Linked DNA regions of Homo sapiens: region 1 is linked to region 2. The links come from fine-mapping of genetic effects on gene expression. A gene starts in region 2. The other region holds a variant in brackets. All regions are shown on one strand. Distances are between the middles of the regions.

Evidence for each region.
Region 1: its variant is fine-mapped to the expression of MOCS1 in lung (TOPMed, PIP above 0.99).

Annotation. Positions count from the first base shown.
Region 1 is chr6:39,957,625-39,968,877 of GRCh38, forward strand. LOC102723789 (a long non-coding RNA gene) reads left to right here. Exons shown (of 6, transcript XR_001744112.1): 4 at 5,886-5,935. It also overlaps the pseudogene RPL23P6. Among named protein-coding and RNA genes, the nearest start is that of MOCS1, 29 kb to the left of the region's middle. The variant G/C (reference allele first, on the strand shown) is at 4,963.
Region 2 is chr6:39,929,268-39,940,520 of GRCh38, forward strand. It overlaps MOCS1 (molybdenum cofactor synthesis 1), which reads right to left and starts at 5,195. Exons shown (of 11, transcript NM_001358530.2): 1 at 5,028-5,195. The coding sequence starts at 5,150. It overlaps LOC102723789 (a long non-coding RNA gene), which reads left to right and starts at 5,302. Exons shown (of 6, transcript XR_001744112.1): 1 at 5,302-5,376.

The DNA.
Region 1 (11,253 bases), 28 kb after region 2:
CAACTTCATACATTTTTAATAATTTGTAGAACTTTGCACCTAAGAAGTATATCTCCCCGTACTCCCCCAAACTCCCTTCCGAAAGAGTCATCTCTTGCTGGCTGTATCTCTTGACTTGAAGGTCACCCTTCTCAAGGTAGTCTGCTGTACCTGTCTTCTTACCTGTTCAGGTTTAGAGATAATAGCTCAGCTGACTCTAATATTGTGTTCCTATGCTGTTCTTCATGATTTTCATATGTTCTGCCCACATTTGTCAGTAGTCCCATATATAAAACCATCCTAAGTTTTACTAAGTTCAGTGTGACATCCGTTTCTTTGCTGGGACCCTGATGACACCAGGCACAGGTCAGTTGAGCCAGACCCTTTTAGGGTTTCCTGAAAGCTCTGCCCACCATTTTTTACTCATGGTTAGAAGTTAGTCAGATGGCCATCCTGAATAAGAGAGGTGGGGATAGGTAGGTGGTATATTATTGTTGTTGGCTTTTTGGGGGACTGGGAATTGTAGTTATGAAGGAATATTGGATACTGGATAGGCAGTTAGATGTCTGTGTCACAGAGGTAAAGATAAAGAGAGCCTACAAGGGAAGAAACAATATTAATGTGTAGTTAAGTAGACTGAGGAGAAAGGGAATATACATCAATAATCATTGAACTCTCAGCAACACAGTCACATTTTAAAGGTCACTGGCAAATCCATAGGCCCCTGCCTTTGAAGTGCCCCACCTTAAGACTTTTTAATGGGCTTAAAGTTTTTTTTTTTTTATTTTTTACAAATATACTGGAGAATCATGCAATGCTGCCAGCACTGGACGCAATCCAGGGCCACAAGTCTGCACACTCCTTTGCTACTGGTCCTGTAATGGCAGAACCTTTCATCTCGCCTTTATTGTTCACTGTGACCCCTGCATTATCTTCAAAATAAAGAAACACGCCATCTTTTCTGCGGTATGACTTTCGTTGTCGAATAACCACTGCTGGATGTACCTTTTTTCTGAGCTCTGGTTTGCCTTTCTTGACTGTGGCCATCACCGTGTCACCCACACCAGCAGTGGGAAGTCTGTTCAGCCATCCCTTGATCCCCTTTCACGGAGATGACATACAGGTTTTTGGCTCCTGTGTTGTCAGCACAACTGATCACACTCCTACCAGAAGACCCAAGGAAATCTGGAATTTCACACCAGAGGACCCACCACGTCCTCGCTTCAACATCTTGAAAGCCGGAAAGAAGAAAAAAGCACTTAAGGCCTTTTTAAGTGTGTTTTTCCCTCTTGTACAGGCCCATGAATCCAATTAATTTATAACTTTCACCCTGGAAGAATACAAACAATATGCACAATTGTTTAACTTAATATTCTTTCTGTACAAAGAATGTGAATTTTCAATGCAATAAAATCTTATTTAACAACAAAAAAGCATGACATAGTTGTTAAGAAGTTGTGTCCCAGAGTCAAAGTACCCAAGTTGGAATCCTGTTTCCACTACGTGCCAGCTGTGTGTTCTTGAGCATGCTGGTCAACCTCTTTGTGTTTGTTTACTCATGCACAGAGTGGGTGTGGTGGCATGAAAATGCACCTGGCAGACCTTCTAGTGCAGAGCACATAACTAGCCAAGGGTCCCAGTTGCTACAGTTTGGAATCCATCATAGCATGTGTGCCAGGGTCACATCTCTTCCGGGCTGCTCCCCACTAATGACTGAAAATGGCAGGGGTACTAAGGTACATCTATTCCCGAAAGACACGGGACTCCTTTCTTAACCAACTGTGGCTCAAAGACTCTCCAAAGGCTTTGCTGAACATTTCCGAAACTGCTGTGTAGTCTAAGACATTTCTACCCAGCCTTTTCTCCCTTTCTCCTTCACTCAGAGTCAATCTTGGGTTATGACATGATTCTCCCAGCCTTTACCCTCTTTCTCCCATTTCTTTTTCAAAGGCATTTCCCTGAACATACTTGCACATTTATTCTGGTCTTGTCACCTTTGTCTTGGAGGACCCAGATTAACACAGTGGAGACAGTAGTACCTACACCTCACAGAGTTGAGAAGATGAGTTAATTCATTTAATATGGTAATAGTCATACTTGAGAAATAGTAATAACTCAGTCCATTTTGATTGTTAAAGATAGACCCCATCTTACATTTCTAGTATTACAGAAATGCTGTAGCATTGTAGCAGATTAGATAATCCAAAAACCTTTTCATTATAAAATACCATGAAAGTATGATTAAATACAGAAAATAATCTTCTAAATGCATAGCTGAGCTTATAATAACATAAATCCTGGAGCAAAAATGAATAGAGAATTGAAAACCAGAAGTATTCTTCAGTTCACATTGTAGCTGTCCTTAGGTTTGTCTACCTCAGAGACCATGATGGAGGCTTTGCACATGAAGCCGAAAACTATCAAAGAACTACTACTATATTTTCAGAAGAAGGGCAGCAACTAAAAACAAGATCAACCCTTCAGCAAAGAGGGATATCAAGGAAGCTTGTCTGTTTTTACTTGTATTTGAATAAAGGGATAGGATTCCCCCAGACACCTGCTCTCCCTGAAGGCAGAGTTTCACATTTAGATCTCTTATGTGGCTGAGAACTCCCAAGCTGGTAATATCTGTAACAAAGAGAATGTAAGTCCTCTCTGGAGGGACAAAACCTTATCTAAGGTTTCTCAGAGTTCCCTTCAATACAGCCCTGCTAAAGGTGAACTCACAATCCACAATCACAAAACACATAAGAAAAGAATTCACCATGAGTGAGAGTTGTCAGTATTAAAAGTGGGATTATAGTCTCAAATTTAAAAGATAGTAATTGTAAGCATTTTTTAAAATTTTAAGTTAAGTGGTACATGGGCAGATTTGTTACACAGGTAAACTTGTGTCATGGGGTTTTTTTGCACAGATTATTTCACCCAGGTATGAAGCCTAGTACCTATTATTTTTTCCTGATCCCCTCTCTCCTCCCACACTCCACCCTCTGATAGGCCCCAGTGTGTGTTGTTTCCCTCTATGTGTCCATGTGTTCTTATCATTTAGCTCCCACTTGTGAGAACATGCAGCGTTTGGTTTTCTGTTCCTGTGTTAGTTTGCTAAGAATAATGGCCTGCAGCTCCATCCATGTCTCTGCAAAGAACATGACCTTGTTCTTTTTTATGACTGCATAGTATTCCACAGGGAATCAATATCATTAAGCATCTTTTACTCTCTCTGGCTGGAAGTTACATTAATAGTTTTTTTTAAATATAAGAGAAGGCTAAATTATCAAAATCAAATAAAAGTGTTAAAGACTCTCTTAGTTTAAGTTCTCTAGAAAGCAGAGCTTGAGACAAGGATGAAGATGGAGATATTTTATTTAGAAATTACAAGCCCAGTGACATGAAAGTGAGGGAGAAAAGGGGGAAGTGGGGCAAAGAAAGATGTGAAGCAATGTAATATGAGGCATTACTGCACTAGCCACTGGTTCTTGAGAAGCCATGAAGAAACACAGCTAGTCACATAGAAGGTATATTTGCTTAGCACACAGTACCTTTCTGGAAAGTTTTAAAAAAGAAGCACCACCTCTGATTAGAAGGGAGAAAAGAAGGGGGAATTTCTCTGCCCAGCTCCTTCCTGTTTCTCATTTCCCATTGCTCAAATTTCACACCATGGAGACCTAACTCATAATTATTGCATTATTCATCCTTTGATGTCACTCAGAAAGCCAGATCCTATGTCCATAAGTGGAGGAATGACTTGTTGCAGACAGGCATGGCATGTGAGATGTGAGGTCCGTTCAATCTCAGGCCCCCAGCCAGTCTGGGAAGCCGAGTAGAGGCGGCAGTGCGCCTGTTTACTCCAGGGAGTTATCGCAAATAGGAGGAATTTTGAGAACAAGGGAGGCAGTTTGGCTCTGAGAAAGTACACAAGGTTTGTGTCTGATGTGAAATGAGAATAGAGCCATTGAAATTAAGGAAAAATTCCCAGTGGAAAGATTAATCAGATCCAGATGAAGATAGAATTGGGAACTGGAAAAGAAGTGATTTCTCTGTGCTACATTTTGGGTAAGGAAACATTAAAAAATGAGAGGCATGAGAGATAGAGTGAAAAGGTTCAATTTATATTCAGTACAAATTTCAGAAGGTGAGATTAGAGAGAATCAGCAAGAGACTACATCGGTAAAGAATATGAATCCTTAGATTCAGTTTCTATGTGAGAATTTTTTTAAGTCCAAGGGCAGGTTTTGTGCACATAGATTAAAAATCAAACCCAAATAACTAAAAATAAAGTTTTGTTTACTAAAATTGTAAATGTAAACAGTTTTCCCTAAACCTCTAAATTTATCTTATAAATTGTATTATACTGTTTTAAACCCAGTAAGTTTTATATAAAATAATTATTTTCAGGGAGCCTTATTAAATTGGACTGATTACTTAAGGGAGTTTGATTTTGATTAATGTTAAGTAAACCTGAATTGAACAGACTAGTTTTCTGTAAGCACTTTAACATTTATAAATTTAATATATTCCATTTTCTTTAAGAAATTAGAAGTCTAAACTCAACAAACTCATGACCTAACAAACGAATCCTTCCCTCATTATTAAGCAGCTACAGTTCTTTTAACTATCCTAACACTCTTTATAAGTTAAGTCACTTCCTCTTATACCATCCAACCTCAAATCCAATGCACATTTAATTTGGAATGACAGGTCAATTTGTCATTTACTTTAATATGCCACATTCAATTATATTTTACCAGCATTTTATATACCCACCACTCAGATTATCTTGACTGTAACATAAACTAATGTCATGGGTTTGATGCACTTCATAATTTCTATATTCCTGGGGTTAAAAGACACTTAACCCACTAAAGTTCAGTGTTATTTTAGGTTACTGAGACAATTCATGATGTGATTATCACCCAAGGCAAGTTGGATTTGCAACTGGACAGAGACATAGAGACATTTGGCACAGGGATACCAGACTTGGAA[G/C]TGCCTGTGTCAAGTGTGGCTTCATGCATCACAGATGGATGTACTGAGTCCAGTTTTAATAATCTCTAGATTGTTAAGGACCTTTCAGGTAGGGTTGGTACCTACTGTTTCAGTTATACACCATCACACAATACTTTTTGTAATCTTTCAGTTTTATTACTTGATTTGAATCATCTGAATTCTACAATCTCCAACCAAATTTCAGCTGATTTTGTTCCCTAATGTCATCACTACTTGACTAAACTACGTATTTTTCGTGGCTACCAAGAGTCTGGTATTGGTAGACTCTGCTTCTCTCTTTTCTTTACCTAGCTCTATGGTCACAACACCCCTGAATGGTATAAATAAAAGTAGGTATACATTAGACACATTGAAATGGAATCAGAAGCAATGGCTACCAAGAGGTGGAAGTGGCCTAGTCAAAGCAAAAGCAGACCAGTGAAGAGCAAAGATCGTGGCAAAAGTTTCTTGGAATGCTCAAGGCATTTTTCTTGTTTACTTTCTGGAGGGCTGAAGAATGATATCATCTGTTTATTATGAGTGTTTTGAGAAAGCCAAGCTTTATGAGAAAAATACTCAGGAAGACTGCTAGAGAGTCTTTCACTACGACAATGCTCCTGCTTATTCCTCTTAAACAAGGGCAATTTCATGAGATTTGATGGAAAATTAGGCATCCACCTTACAGTTCTGATTTGGCTCCTTCTGATTACTATTTGTTTCCTCATCTTATAAAATCTTTAAAGGGCACCCATTTTTCTTCACCTAATAATGTAAAAAAGGTTGCACTGATGTGTTAAATTCCCAAGACCCTCAGTTCTTTATGGATGGACTAAATGGCTGGTATCATTGCTTTCAAAAGTGTCTTGAACTGATAGAGTTTATGTTGAGAAATAAAATGCTTTATTTTTATCTTTTAATTCCAGTTTCCATGAAATTTTGAGGTCACCTTGTATCTTTTAAGTGCTGAGAGAAGGTAAGAATGAACCTACAATTTTATGCCTAGTCAAACTATCATTCAGGACTGAGAAAAAAGTCATTTTCACAAAGACAAAGACTAAATTCCCTAACAGACTGTTTCTGGAAAAAAAAAAGTTAAACTACATAAATTCCACTCTATGAAAACACTTGCTATTTGCTATCTAAAATGCAGGAACGAAATAGACTTGCATAACATGATATACTTTACAGTCTCAGTATCCAAATTCATTATCCAAACCTAGGAACCAGAAAGTTCAGATGGTGAGGAAAACATAACTAAAGGAAGAAAAATTAAACCCCCCAAAAAAAGAAGTGAGATTCTCAAGAAGGAAAGGTGAGCAAGGAAACTGATTAACATATGGGTAAAACTAAATGACCATTGTTTGAAATAATACAAATAATCATTGTTTTAGGAGGTATACAAAATAGTGGAAATAAAATATGTACTGATTAATATATGAAGTAGAATTGGTAATTGAAATGAAAAGTTCAAGGTTTTGGCAATCGGCAGGAGGAGATTAGAAATATACTAATCGTAGCAGGCACTGTTGATACCGGTTTCCCCAGTATCCTTTCTGCCCACCCAAGTTCATTTGCAACTGTGGTAGACAGTTTTCAACAGGCTGACAGCTCCTGCTGAAGCACATGTCTCTCTCCCATGCCCAATGTCCTTCTCCTGAACCACAGAAACGTGCTCTGCCTTAAGCACCTGTAACCTGGAAGTTTAGGGAAGTTAACACCCATGGATAACGTTCAACCAATAGAGGAGTCAGATAAATGTCCTGACCTCCTTATCCCCTGGCGGGAAAATTGTCAGACACATTCCATTTGCTTATTCAGAGGGTTTGAGCATGTTATCCACAACAGTTACCTGCCCATGAGGGCTTCCCGTATTGGCTTCTCTCTCTTCCCCATCTCACTGTCCCATTCATTCACTTGTGCTTCCTGATTTTACTTCCAAATGCCTGTACTCAAGTTCTTGTCTCAAGGGCAGCTTCTAGAAGAATCTGAATAAGACACCGATTACCTTTAGAATTTAACTAAAGCATGCTTGCTACAATTTTAAGAGTAATCACTAAAACGATACAGACAGGATGTGAAAATTCCAGGTATAAGGGAAAAAAGGAAATGAAAAACCTTAAGTCAATAAAGATAAAAGGGGTGGAAGGGGAAGAGAAAGTTAAGAAAATCTGAGTAAATATTGTATTTCTTAGAATCTAAGAAATCTAGGATGACATCAGTTGTAAAATGTACTTAAATTTTACATGCTACTAAGTTAAAAAAAGCTGCTAACTACAACATGAATTGTAAGAAACACTTTAATTTCAAAGATATTGCAACATGGGGAAAATGTATATCTTTTGGCAGCACCAGAAAGATTCTAGAAATATAAAAGTATTCAATAATCATTATATAAAGGGGCTAAGTCATTTGAAAGGTCAGATTGTCCAACTGGATTATATTTTTAAGATTAGCTCTATGCCATCATTAAGAGATACTTCAAACATGAAAGAACACAAAGGTCACACATAGAAGAATGGAAAAAAGATAATATCAGGCAAATATTAACTAAAAAGCTGGTGTAGGTATCTCAAAATACCTCTAGAAATGCTTTTTTGCTTTAAGGAGAGCTTCTCCATGGTTGTAAAATTTCAATTCCTAAGGAAGATGTGACATTTCTAAATATTATGTACCTAAAACAGCCTAAAAACATAGAAAGCAAAAAGAAGTACAAGGAAACATAGAAACAGCCTAAGAACATAGAAAACAAAGAGAAGTGCAAGGAAAAGGTCAACTCCAGGTAACTCCAAAACAATCTAGTATTGACAGATCAAATAAATAAAAAATTAATAAATGTTTAGCAGATGTTAACATAATGACTATTATATAATGAACATGTAATAAACCCTATATCACAAATTAAAAATATATATACTCTTACACATGGAACATTTATGAAAATTAGCCACATATTAAGACATAAAACCAACCTTACAAATACTGAAAGAATCAATATCATACAGATTGTATTATCTGACCACAGTATAATTAACTTAGAAAGCAGTAACAAAAACATAAAAATACATTTGGAAATTTTCAAACATGTAGTTTTTGGGTCAAAGACAATATTGTAAGAGATATAAAGAAACATTTCAACTGAATAATAATGAAAATCTATGTATCAAAACTCATGCGGTACAGCTAAAGCTACCTTTACAGAAATTTACAGCCTCATATACTCAAAGAAGTCTGAAAATTTATGAGTTAATCATCTAACTCAAGAAATTAGAAAAAGAACAGGGTCCAAAGTAACTAAATGGAGGACAATAAAGATAAGATCAGCAATTAATTGTAATATCTTGCATTGGACTCAGTTTTTTTTTACTCTCCTACAATAGGATTATACATCCACATCCTCTACGTACAATGGAAAGATACTGTAAAGTTACTGGGCAGATATAGTTCCCTGCCCCCCTGAAAAAGGGCTTCACTATCAAGGCCAAGGCTTCCCACTTGGCCTCTGCTGGCCTCAGGACCACCAAAACTCAGCATTTAAACAACAAGCATTGATTTCTTACTGCAGGGTGTATGAGTCAGCTGGGATAGGCTAAAATCTGGGCTTCAGCCTCCAAGTTGCAGGTTGTGTTCAGGTCCTTAAACCTGGAGCACGTTCTTCCCTTAGTGAATGGCAGGCAAGCAACAGATTAAACTAGGCCGGGTTCGGTGGCTCACACCTGTAATCCCAGCACTCTGGGGGGCAGATGCAGGCATCGGAACACCTGAGGTCAGGAGTTTGAGACCAGCCTGGTCAAAATGGCAAAACCCCATCTCTACTAAAAAAATACAAAAACAGTTGGGCATAGTGGCACGTGCCTGTAATCCCAGCTACCTGGGAGGCTGAGACAGTAGAATCACTTGAACCTGGGAGGCGGAGGTTGCACTGAACCTGGATTGTGCCACTGCACATCAGCCTGGGTGACAGCAAGACTCCATCTCAAAAAAAAAAAAAAAAGATTAAACAAAACTGCGCTAACATATTCAAGTCTCCTGCTCCTATCAAATTTACCCACATTCCATTGGCTAAAGCAGAGTTTTGGTCGTCCCCAGGCCAGCAGAGGCCAAGTGGGGAGACTTGGCCAGACTGTAAGGAAGCACCAAAATCTCCTGTCCTCCAAAAACTGGTATCAAAGAAGGCCAAGTGAGAATATTCATCCTTCCTGGCAGTACCAGGCACACTGCACCCACATGGGAGCCTCGATTTCCATGGCCCCTTGGCAGTAATAAGACATCTCTCCCCTCCTGCTGGAGGGTGGGTGTCAGGAAGCCTGTGGAGAGGGCTGGGCCTTTCGCCACCAGCCAGCCATAATGAGGCTACCCTCTACCCCTATGGTGTCAGTGGAGGCTATTTGGAGAACACTCATGAGACACTCCTACCCCTCCCCTCAACCAGGGAGGCCTAGATGGGGGCTGGAACTTGCACCCCTGCCCAGCAGTAACAAGGAGTTCTCTCTCTCAGGTGTTAATAAAGGCCAAGTGGGAAACCTGGACTTCCAGCCCCACCTGGCAGTGGAACCCCCCTTCCCCTATCAGTGCAGTGTCAGAGGAAGCCAGTTAGAACAGAAAATTTATGTAAGATCAGACTCTCATGACATAATACCCCAAATTTCCAGGGTTCAATCACAAATCACTCATCATACCAACCACCAAGATCTCAAACTGAGTGAAAAGAGGTAATAAATGCTCATATCAATATGACAGAGATGTTAGAATGATCTGACAAATAGTTTAAGATAGTCATCATAAAAATCAATGAAAAACAACCAGATTTTTAAAAATAGGCAAAAGATTTGAATAGACATTTCTCCAAAGAAGATATACAAATGGCCAGTAAGCACCTAAAGAGATGATCGGCATCACTAAACATTAGGGAAATGAAAATTAAAACCACAATGAGATAATACCTTACACCCATTAGGATGGCTACTGTCAAAAAAAAACAAAAAACAAAAAATAACAGCGTTGGTGAGGATGTGGAGAAATTGGGATCTTTACGCGCTGTTGGTGGGAATATAAATGGTACTACTACTGTGAAAGCCAGTAGGGTGGGTCCTCAAAAAATTGAAGATATAATTACCATATGATGTAGCAATTCCACTTTCACCCAAAAACTGAAAGCAGGATCTAAGAGAGATATCTGTATGCCCATATTCATAGCAGCATTATTCACAATAACTAAAATGTGGATGCAACCCAAATGTCCATCAATAGATGAACAAGCAAAATGTGGTATATCATAAAATGGAATATTATTCTGCCTCCAAAGAGAAGGAAATTCTAACACATGCTACAATGTGGATGAACCTTGAGGACATTTTGCTACAGTCACAAAAATATCAAATTCTATATGATTCCACGTATGAGGTAGAATAGTCAAAACTAGGGAGACAGAAAGTAGAATGGTGGTTGCCAAGGGCTGGGAGGAGAGAGGAGAGAGGATGGGACATTATTGTTTAATAGGGATAGACAGTTTGAGTTTGAAAAGAGATGGATAGTGATGAGTTGTGTAACAATATGGATGTACTTAATACCACTGAACTATACACTTAATGATTAAGATGAGAAATTTTACATTATGGGTATTTTAGTACAATAAAAAAATAGAAAAGGCTGGGCATGGTGGCCTGTAATCCCAGCACTTTGGGGGGCCGAGATGGGTGGATCACCTGAGGTCAGGAGTTCAAGACCAGCCTGACCAACATGGTGAATCCCCATCTCTACTAAAAATACAAAAATTAGCGGGGCATGGTGGCGTGCACCTGTAATCCCAGCTACTCAGGAGGCCGAGGCAGGAGAATTGCTTGAACCTAGGAGGCGGAGGTTGCAGTGAGCTGAGATCACGCCACTGCACTCCAACCTGGGCAACAGAGCAAGACTCTGTCTCAAAATAAAAAATAAAATAAAATAAAAAAAAAAAGAAAAAAAAAATCAAGGTGCAATTATGACCATATTTGAAATGAATAAAAAAAGTCTCAAAGACATAGAAGATACAAGAATCAAGTGACAATTTTAGAAGTAAAAATACAATTAGTTAAATAGTTTTTAAAAACTCTCTCCTCTGGGTCTTTGTAGTCAGAAAAAAAACCCTTAAAGGATGATACTGAATATCATTGCCTCTAGAATCTGAAGTCTGAATTATTTCTTGCAAAATTGAAGAAATAATCAGTGAACTTTAAGATAGAAATTATGCAGTGTGAACAGACAGAAAGTAGACCAAAAATAATTAACAGAACCTCAGGGATTTGTGGAAGTATA
Region 2 (11,253 bases):
GCGGTATGATGGAGAAAACTCAAACTCAACCCATTGCCTTTCCACAGATAGCCTCAGGGTTGGGGCGGGGAGCACTCCATAATCAAGAATCCCATCAGCCACCGGAGTCCAGATGAGATACCTGGGAATCTGGATGTATTGCAGTGCTGTGCCCTCTTTTTCATCAACAGCTATTTGCAATTCAGTCATGTTAGTCACCCTAGATTCTGCCTCTTCACTTGCCAAGATACCCCCCCTCAACCCAGTCTTGACATGATGGGGGGATGGGGTGGCTGGATGGGGGAGGAGTCAAAATACATCAAAGAATTGGAAGTTGAGAGGACCAAGGAGCATTATTCAGCAGAAACCTGAGAGCAAGCAGTGTGATGGAGCAATCAAGAATGGAATTAGGGGCCGGGTGTGGTGGTTCACGCCTGGAATCCCAGCACTTTGGGAGGCCGAGGAGGGCAGATCATTTGAGGCCAGGAGTGTGAGACTAGCCTGGGCAACATGGCAAAACCCCGTCTCTACTAAAAAATACAAAAGTTAGCTGGCTGTGGTGGCGCGAGTCTGTAATCCCAGCTACTCGGGAGGCTGAGGCAAGAGAATCGCTTGAACCCAGAAGGCAGATGTGGCAGTCAGCCAAGATCGCACCACTGTACTCCAGCCTGGGCAACAGAGCGAGATTCTCTCAAAAAAAAAAAAAAAAAAAAAAATGGAATTTGGTGCTTTTGTTCTGGCAATGGGAGAGGCTGGTCAGATTTCACTTTTAAGAACTTCTGTGACCTTGTCTAGACTTATGCAGACTGCACCACCCGTTCTGAACCCAGCCTCCTAAACACACACACTCTCACCCTGCCAGCAATGCAAACTCATTACTCAGATATTAACGAGCCCCATTCCTGCATCTTCTCTCCTCTAACACTGCATGCCCTACTTTCATTCTTCTACTTTTTTCCCTGTCCCTTAAGTCTCCTGGAGGAAAAAAATATCAGCACCAGTCAAAGGAGCCCAAGATTCAGAGGGAATTATAGGACAGAGTAGACAGCAACCCTGCTTGCTCAGGAGGGCTGGGACATGCCAGAAGTAGTAGGAAGCACTCAACGGATCATATTCCCAGGGTCCCAGGCTGGCCTGGGCTGTTTCCTCTCCGTGAGAAGTCATTCTGCCTGATTCAGTATCCCCAGTGTCTAGCACAGGATGTTGGTACATTTTGAATCACATGAACAAATAGTCCTGTCCCTAATGTAAGCAGAAAGGTCGTATATGCAAAAGCCAGTTACATGGGGGTAATCATTTCCCGGCTGGTCTCTACTGTCAAAATGGTTTAACCTGGTATAGTGGTTTGAAACCCTGGCAGCCCATCAAAATCACTCAAGGAGCTTCAAGAAGGATTCTAGTTTCAAGAAGGAGCTAGAATCTGTCCCAAAGATTCTAGCTCAATCTAGTGCCTCAGCTGTGCAGCCAGGGCTGAGAACCATCGGCCTAGTGACACCAAGTGCCAGGTGCTATTTTAATCCAGGGCAAGTTGTTGTGGTTCTGAGCACAGGATTTGGAGTAGGTGAGCCTATATTACAAGCCTGGCTCTAGCTGTTGAGCAAGTCACCTAAATTCTCGAAACCTTAGTTTCCTCATCTATGCAGTGGAAATAATAATCCAACCTAACTCAGTTGGAGGAGTTCCTGGCACCGAGGTTTTCATTCAGTGATCCATGGAGGAACACTGTTGTGTGCTGTGATCAGTTTTTCTAGTTTGTCAGCTTCCCTTCCCTTCCAAGACCCTGGCCTTCCAACCCTACTAACAGCAGATGGCCAGAGGCAGGGTTTCAAAGCTGCTGCCACACCACCCAAGTGGGGTCTGAGCATCCCCAGGACCACCAATACTGGTGTGCATCAGCAGGCACTAAGCAGCCTGCCAGACACTACTGGTCATCTCATGTCTACCCAATGCAGATTAGGGTGAAGGGGGTGGGGAAGGGTGGGACAAAAGAGTTAAAGCGGGACCCTGCCCTCAAGGTGCCCTCCTCTACTAGTCACTCATCTTAGGCATCTGATTTGACTGCTAAAGGCTAGCCCTCAAATAGCTCCAAAGTCTAAACAGAGCAGCAGGGTTATTCGAGAGGAAAAAAAGCACATTCCAAATCTAAGTATCGTGGCCCTGATTTACCCTGCTATTGGGATGATGTATACTAAGGGTCTCTTAAAATTAATCTCTTTTAAATGAGAGGACCCAACAAAGAGCCTAGCCTAGCTCGATTCTCCTTCCCCCTCCCCTCATTCCCACCCTAAGTGTGAGGTCTTTACACCTATAGCTTCTGAGGAGGACAGTCACATTTCGCTGAAACATGGATTTTGAGGAGCTGGGCAGATTGGAAGTCAAGATGACCTCCTGAAAGCCCTCTTTCCCTCCTCCCCCTCATTCTCCCTCACCAGTGCCTGCTGTACTCCTTCTACCTTCACCCACACCCACTTCCTTGCAGCCTAACCCCTAGCCAGCATTTGTTTTTTCTGGCCCCCTGAACAGATGGGTGCCTTTGCCTTGCCTAGACTCACCCTCCCTGCTTCCCCCGCCACAGGCAGCAGGCTTCATTGTTGCCCAACAAAGCCTGCATGGAGCCTCAGAGGGAGAAAGAGGGATACAGCACTCCCAGGCTAGGCTGAACCCTACAAAGATTGTCTGGGCCACCCCAGATGCAGGCTGGCAGGTTGCTGTGTCTCCCCCACCCACCTCCCCATTGACCCACACACTACTCCTTTCCATAGCTAGAAGCTACTCGACCTGTTCTTGGACTCAGCCCACAGCCCCCTTTCCGCAATCCTCACAGCCAGCTCCCACTTAACCTCACTTCTCTCCCTCACACCCTCATCCTGCCACACAAACAATGCCCAGTGGCTTTCCATCCTAGCTCTCCAAGCACCTCCCATCCCAAACCAGACTACCAGAGCCCTGTGTGGGCGTGTTGGGGGAGACAGACCCTGCAAGAAGGGGTTCAAGGTGTCCCCACCCCAACTGGCAAGCTCTGGAGATGAGCAGAACATATCCATTTCCAGACTCACCTCCCCTTAGAGTCTCCTCAAGACAAGTTTCTGTGCCCTCCCCCATCTTATGATGGGCTGGCCCAGTCCTCTCATTTTATAAACATGAAGCAAAGGGAAGTGACAGCCCCAGGAGCCAGGTGAAATTGGAGGCGAAACTGGCGGGTGAAAACATGGGACTCCCTGTCCAGTGTGGTCTACTATGCCACGTGACTCCTCACTAGTTAAGTTTCAAGCAGCTACAATTATTGGCTGAATCCACTGCCTGCACAACCCTGCGTTAAGCGCTTGTGGGGATAGAAAGGCGGAGGTGCACCCAGCCCTCAGGAACTCCCAGTCTGCTGAAGATAATCCTAATGAGATGTCCAGGATTCAATGTGAGTTGACAGAATAGCTATCCAACAAGTCCAGATGGGAGGGGACTCACAGGACAGAGCATGTGCCAGTGGCAGCATGGATAATAGTAATTACCACCAACATTTACATAACACAGCACTTACATGGGCTAAGCTTTGTTCTAAGTATATACGTTAACATACGTTAACTCTTTTAATCCCTGTGACATCCTATGAAGTAGACACTTTTATTCTTACTTTGCAGATGAGAAAACAGACACTGAGAGGTAAGGGGACTTGGTGAATCCCTAATAAGGGATGGGGCTGCCCCAGAGTCTATGTTCTCCTTTCTGCCACATTACCCCTCCCTTCACAGTGTAAAGGGATGGATAGGAGCAGGCTCTCTCCCTGGCCTCCACACAGGGAGGACGGAAAAGCATTAGAGTTGAGTTCCTGCCCTCTACAGCTCTGCGACTGGAGGAAAGTTAACTTAGATTAGCCCCCTCATCTGAACATACAAACTCTACTCACCTCACATGGCTTAGTGAGGACTAAATGCTTCCACATGTGAGTCACTCAACACAGGTTCTCTCATGAAAGACCAGTACAAAATAAACTAGGGGGTGGGGGGCTGGAGAAGAAAAGTCCCTTTTCTTGAATTCTTTAAAGATCTCTCAGCCATCTTTGCTTTCCTATCTCTTCCTCAATGATGTTCAGAGTTTGAGGATACTAAAAAGTCTTCACTTCCCAACCATGGGCCTGCTTATCTGAGGATCCCAGAGGGGCTTAGATTTGGGGAAAGCAAATTTGGCGGAAGTCATTGAGCAATATAGGGGAGGAGGGAGCAGTGATCTTATGAATCCCAGGACAGGAAGCCTAGTTCTGGGAGACGGGGAAAAAAACGCCTAGATAGGTACCGAAAAGAGGTTTCACTAAATGAAAAGAGGTACTTTTCCCCCCAAATTATTCCCTAACCACCTGAGCAGAAGAACAACCAAAACCTAAAACTTTTAATGACTTGAAACACTCTGAGGGGTGCTGGCAAGGACTGAGGGATCTTACCCAAAACCCTAAAGACAGAGGAATTAATTTCTCACCTGGAAGAAGCCACGTCCTGCCCTGTTCTGCTCTAGGATAAGGCTGAACCCTCCCAAGGTTAATAAAAAAGACAAGGAGAGTCAGCAAAGGATGGGTTACAGAGCCCTGGGACTACAGTAACAACTCATCGTTGGTGACACCGAGGTGACATGTTTAGTCAGTCGCACTATGAAGCAGGTGTCACAGGGACACCTGATCTCTCAGCTCTTGGGATAGGGAGGGAAAATGTTTAAGAAAGAGGGTGGGTGCAAGGCAAGGCTGAAAGGTACTAAGACACCTCACTGGACCCAAAGTCCCAGTCCTCTGCTTACCCGAATTTCTGGCCAAGCTCAGGGCTAGAAGGGGTGGCGTGGCTGGGGGGCAGGGAGGTTCTGAAGCGGGACTCCCAGGAACCTCTCCCGCTGGGCTAGCGGGTGAGACCGGGCGGTCCATCTGGAGAACATCGCTCCACTGAGGAGTGCCAACGGGTCCCTCCCAGAAGCGGTCAAGCAGATAGGCCGGGAGCTACTGGGGGAAAAGGGCAGTGTGCCGGGGCCACTCCTGCCCCGGGAAGCTGTGGACGCAGGCGGGGTGGGCTCACCTCCGAGGCAGCTCGCGCGGACTCCCCGGGGCAGGGCTGGGTCACCGGAGCCCCTGAGCTGCAGCTCCGGGCGCTGGACCTCAGAAGCCGCCGCAGCATCCGGGACAGTGGCCGCGCCGCCATGAAGCCTGATACGAGCGGAACCGCAGCCCGCTTCGGGAGCACACTGGCCGGGCACTCGCCCCCGGGGTCATCCCAGCAAGGGCGGGGAGGGGCAGGGGGAGGGCGGGACCCGCGCAGCCAATAGGCGAGGACGCAGTCCCGCGTGGCCTTGTGGGAGCTGTAGTACGCTCCCTGTGCCCACTTTCCTGGGCCGGGGTAGCGCTCTAGGGCAGAAGGGTAAACTCAGGTAAGGAACGGGGTTCTTTTCCTTCCAGTTTTTCTGGCTGCTCTAGTCTCAGATTTAGGTCGTGGTGTGACAGTAGGCAGGACAGGACAAGGGCCAAACGAATGAGGCACTGCCTTGGATGCAAAATTTAAGAGGGTGCCAGGTAAACTGCGGTTATCAAAGTAAGTAATTTTTTAATGTAATATTTCAAAAAATCGTAATAAATTTTCAGAAGTCCGTGAAATATCAACATTCTAAATAAAAAGATTTAGCCTACACTTGCATGACTCACATCACTCAGTGCACCATAGTGCAGATTGTGGTTGTAAAACGGTCAGTTAGGTCTTTCAAGATACACTTCTCCAGTTGTGCCCCAAAAGGATATTAACAATCTTTTTTTTTTTTTTTTTTTTCGTGGAGAAGGCAAGAGTATATGAGAAGTCACAGAATGAGTGGACAACATTTTTGAAATGCTTCTTATACACCAAGCACCATGCTAAATGTTATTTAAAACAATCCTGGTATGAATAGAATGTCCTTTTTGCAACTGAGGACATTGAGGCTTAGAGAGACCAGGTAATTTTCTCGAAGTCACACAGCTGATAGTGGGTTTCAAACCCAGGGCAATCTGCTTTCTACAGTCATTCAGTCAAGATTCAGTATGTGTTAGGAATGGTGGGGTGTGCCTCTTCCTCTCTATAAAAAGCAGAGTGCTGTAGTCCTTTAAGATTTTGGATAACACACACAATAATGAGCTTATGTACTAAGAATAATTATGCTCAAACCAGCCTGTTGTATCCAAAACCCTGTCCCTGTGGAATTGCAAGAATAAAACACCGGCTGGAACATACAGCTGCCAAGTGCATGCTTAGGAAGTGGGAATATAGCTCCTGATCTTGAAGAATTGACCGAATAGTGGGAGAGGAAAAAATAACTGAATATAACTGACTTTTACAAGTGCAGTGGGACTGTCAGAAAAGCTGAGATGATTTTAGCCTTAGATTCAATGTGAATTTCTCACAATGATACTCAAAATTCAGAAAATATATTGTAGGGGATGAAAGTGTATCTGGGGTGTGTTTGAAACTGATGAGACAAGTATGCCAGAGGTCTGTTTGCAAGGGGCCTGAAGACCAACTGAGGACTGTTCAAGCTCTGTCCACTGCTAAGTTTAGATATGTCTGGATTTATCAGGAAAACTGGGTATGGGGGAGAGAAGGATAAAAACTTTTTTTTTTTTTGTATGTATGAGGCTTGAAGAGCCTTCTAGAGAGGACTCAACCTCAGGGAAGAAGCCATCTGACATATGAACTTGATCCAAGAATGTCACCAGCTCCTTGGAGCCTCTCTAGATTCCACCCTCTTCATACAAGTTGTATGTGATCATCCCTTCACTTGGGCTTTACTGTCATCTTTTATAGAACTTGGGTCTCCAAGGCAAGACCTAAGGCTTACTCAGTTCTGTTTGAAGGCTGAAATCCTCTCCATATTATCATACATCTACTTGGACTCCTGTAGTGCTGGGAAACTTTCTGGCTTCCTGATGTTGTCTGGTCCACTTAAATGTTTCCCCACCTATTAAAGTTCTTACTTGTATTCAGCAAAAAAGTGCCCCTTTCTGTCAACATATGGTGATTAAGTGTCATCAGGGCCGAATCCTCTGCTAATGGCTGGGAATAAGGAAATACTTTCAAGGGCTCACAGCCTGCAGTAGGGCTCTGATGTGACAAGTCCATGGATTGATTTGGAGGGTTCTGTAGACCCCTGAACTTGAATGCATAATACTGTATTTTTTTTTCCTGGGGAATGGTGGCTTTTTGTCACATGCTCAAAGAGCCTCATGGAACATACTGTCCTAGAAATCTCTCTTTTGTGATACCCTCCTATTGGCCCTAGTTTTAGCCCCCTAGGCATATACATCCTCTCTTTGAGACTTTAACCCAAGTACTCTCTTAGTGATAAACAGCAGCAGTTATTGCCAACCCTTGTACACAATGTCTTGTGAGCCACTGCACTATCTTCTCTAATACAATTTGGTTTGCCTAGGTCCTGGTGGCAGACTGTATTTGCAAGATGGCTGCAACAATATTTCCTGTCTCGTATGTTCTAGAGCTGTGTTGTCCAATAGAAACTTCTGCAATAATGGAGATATTCCATGTCCTGACATAGCTATTGAACACATGAAATGTGGCTAGTGTGACTGAGAATTGAATTTCTAATTTTATTAAATTGTCATTAATTGAAGTGTAAACAGCCATGTGTGGCTACTGGCTACTGTATTATTCAGCCCTATGATAGAATTTTGCTTTCTCCAGAAGGGGTGGAATTAACTTTCCTTCCTTTGCATCTGGGTCAGTTTGTAACTTGTTTGTAACAGTGTGAAAGTGATACTGCATGGCTTTTGAGACTAGGTCAGAAAAATATGATGCAATTCCCACCTTACAATTTATCTCTAGTGATCTGTTCTCCAGCTGACAGGAAGATATGTTTCTCCTTATTCCCTACCCATTTTCTCCGCACTTGACTTTCATCTCCCAACTCCCCCTCAAAAAAAGATCCAGGATGTGATTTCCAGCCATATGTCCATTGTCTCTTCTAATAGGAACCTCAAGTGTCCAGTCATCTGAATATTCATTCAAACCTATCCCCATTCTATCAGTAACTGTGGACTCTCCTTGCAATTTTAAGCATTTTAATGAAGCAATAAAGTTTCAAAAAATATTGTATCAATTATTCCTATCATTTCTCTTTTGAGGACCTTGTTCAGGATAGTCTTTATTTGCCCCTCCAGATCCTTCTCCACCCTGCTCTGAGGACCAGGAGATTGACTTCTACCAACTGCATTGATGGCATCATCCAGGTGCCCTGACCTCTGGTTTCCAGGTGGATCTTGCCAATAGGGAGCATGGCAGGAGATCAGAGAGCAGGAGGAGAGAAAAGCTGGATTATCTATTCTTCCTGATCTCCCCTGTTTTGCTCTGGCTACAGCTGTAGTTGGTGTCATCTGGCCTCTCCGCCATGATTCCACCTCCCACTTAGTCCAGTAACACTATTTCTCACATTTGTTTCTTCACTTCAGACTGGGGTGGGATTGGCTTTCTTCTGCTGATTGTCCTTGGATGCCTCAGCATTCCTGTTGCCCCCCTCAGCCCGCCCACCTTAACCTTGCCCACACCTCCAAAATAGTCTCTCTTAATGGTAAAGAGCAGCAGTTACTTTTTTATTAAAACTTCATTAAAATATCCCTTCAAAACTTTTAGCTGAGTATGCCGTTTCTTGCTGGTTCCCTGATACAGGATTCGTGGACTCCTCCCTTCCATAGTACCCTTTGTTAATAGTGGCAATTACAACAGAGTGACATTGTTTATTTATATGCCTTCTGCACTATAAACCCTCTGAGGGCTGTTGCCAAATCTAAATCATCTGTAATCATACCACCTAGCATGGTATTTAATGCACAATAGGCTCACAATAAGTACATTAAATGGCAGATTCCATATCCTTGATTTGCCTGTAAGATGGCTGTTATGATTTGGATATGGTTTTTCTGTCTCCACCAAATCTCATGTTGAAATTTGATCCCCAGTGTGGCAGTGGTGGAAGGTGTGGGTCATGGGGGTAGATCCCTCATGAATGGCTTGGTGCTGTTCTCATGCTAGTGAGCAAGTTCCCAGGGGAAGGGATTAGTTCCCATGAAAGTGTGTTGTTATAAAGCCAGGACACTTGTCCAGTTTGGCCCTTTTGTACTGATGCTAGCTTCCCCTTTGATCTTCTCCACCATATCTTGACATAGCACAAAAGCTTTCACCAGAGGCTGAGCAGATGCTAATGTCATGCTTCTTGTAATGAGATAAATAAACCTCTTATCAATTGCCCAGCCCCAGGTATTCCTTCTATAGAAGTACAAAACAGACTAAGACAGCTGTGTCAGTCAGCCTGGGCTAGATTGTACTGTTGTAACAAATAACTCTAATATCTCAAAGGCTGAAAATCACAAGTGTTTATTCTCTCATTTGGGCTACATGTCCAGGAAAGGTGTATTTGTCTGCTTTACATTGCTGTAAAGGAATAATGGAGACTAGGTAATTTATAAAGAAAATAGGTTCATTTGGCTTATGGTTCTGTGGGTGTATAAGAAGCATGGTACCAGCGTCTGTTTCTGGTGAGGGCTTCAGGAAGCTTCCAATTATGGTAGAAGGCAGAGGGAAGCAGGCATGACATGGGGAGAGGAGGGAAGTCACATTAAACAACGAGCTCTTGCATAAGCTAATGCAGTAAAAACTCACTTGTCACCTAGGGGATAACACCAACCTATTCCTGAGGGATTTGTTCCCTTAGCCCAAACACCTCCCACCAGGCACCACCCTCCAACACTGGGGATCAAATTTCAACATGAGATCTGTAGAGGACAAACATCCAAACTATATCCAAGAGTTAGCTGTGAACTTTGTTTCTGGTCAGTGTTGCCCTCACTCTGGGTCCCGGCCTGATAGGGCAGCGAATATCCACATAGAACATTGGTGGTTACCAAGAGGGAAAAAGAGTGTGGCAAACAGCAAACTGGCTCTTACAGCTTCTTCCTGGAAGTGTCACACATCACTCTGCTTTAAGCAAGTCACATGGCTGTATCTAATTTCAAAGGGAAGAGCAGCTTAGTCCTCTCTCAGAGAGGGAACGCACATGCTGGCGAACAGTAAAATAACCTTACTCCAGGAACAAACTTCCCCTTGCTCTCTTATGTATCATCCAGTTTTTCCATTCAACTCTTCCACTTCTTTGCACCTATCACTCCCCTTGCATACTGAAACCAGCCATGGCAGCCTTATGCATCTGCATGTATCATGCATACCCTCAGAGCCATGAGGTGCTGACTAGGAGTCTCTTGTTTAGATTCTGTCATCAGCAAAACTAAGAGAAGAGTTTGTAATACCTCTTTAATTCGATTGTTTTCAAAGTGTGGATTTCAGAGGTCAACACTAGTTTCATAGTAATATTAAGAAATCGTGCCAGGCGCGGTGGCTCCTGCCTGTAATCCCAGCACTTTGGGAGGCCAAGGCGGGCGGATCACAAGGTCAGCAGATCGAGACCATCCTGGCTAACACGGTGAAACCCCGTCTCTACTAAAAATACAAAAAATTAGCCGGGTGTGGTGGCGGGCGCCTGTAGTCCCAGCTACTCAGGAGGCTGAGGCAGGAGAATGGCGTGAACTCGGGAGGCGGAGCTTGCAATGAGACGAGATCACACCACTGCACTCCAGCCTGGGCAACAGTGCGAGACTCCGTCTCAAAAAAAAAAAAAAAAAAGAAATCGTCTTTTCCACTCTCATGCTCCTATGACCATATAGGAGTTTTCTATGTGTGATTTCACAGATTGAACGCAGAAGCAGATATGAGAATCCAGTTGCCTTCTACTAAGCCAGACATGAAAGCAAGTTGCCAAAATGTAGCGCAATGCCACTTTTTTTCCCCTGTTTTTGTTTTGGAAATTATTGTTGTTTTCATAAAGCATTATGTTAACATGTAATAGGTATTATGGACATTATTATTTTTCAGTGAGTTAAATGTTTTCAGATTTTCTGAGTTTGAATTTCTAATATCATAACTATAAATCAAATAAATTGATATAGTAAATAGAAATTAAATATTTCAAAAGATCTGTTGTACGACATGGTGACTGTGGTTGATAACAATATATCGTATCTTGAAAATTGCTAAGAGATTTTAAGTGTTCTCGCCACACAAAAAAGTGAGGAAATGCAAGTGTTAATGTTAATTAGCTCAATTTAGCCATTTCATAATGAATGTTTCAAAACATTGTATATGATATATATTATTTCTGTCAATTTAAATAAGTTAAAAATAGGTATTAAGTAGATATAACACAAATAAACAAATAAGC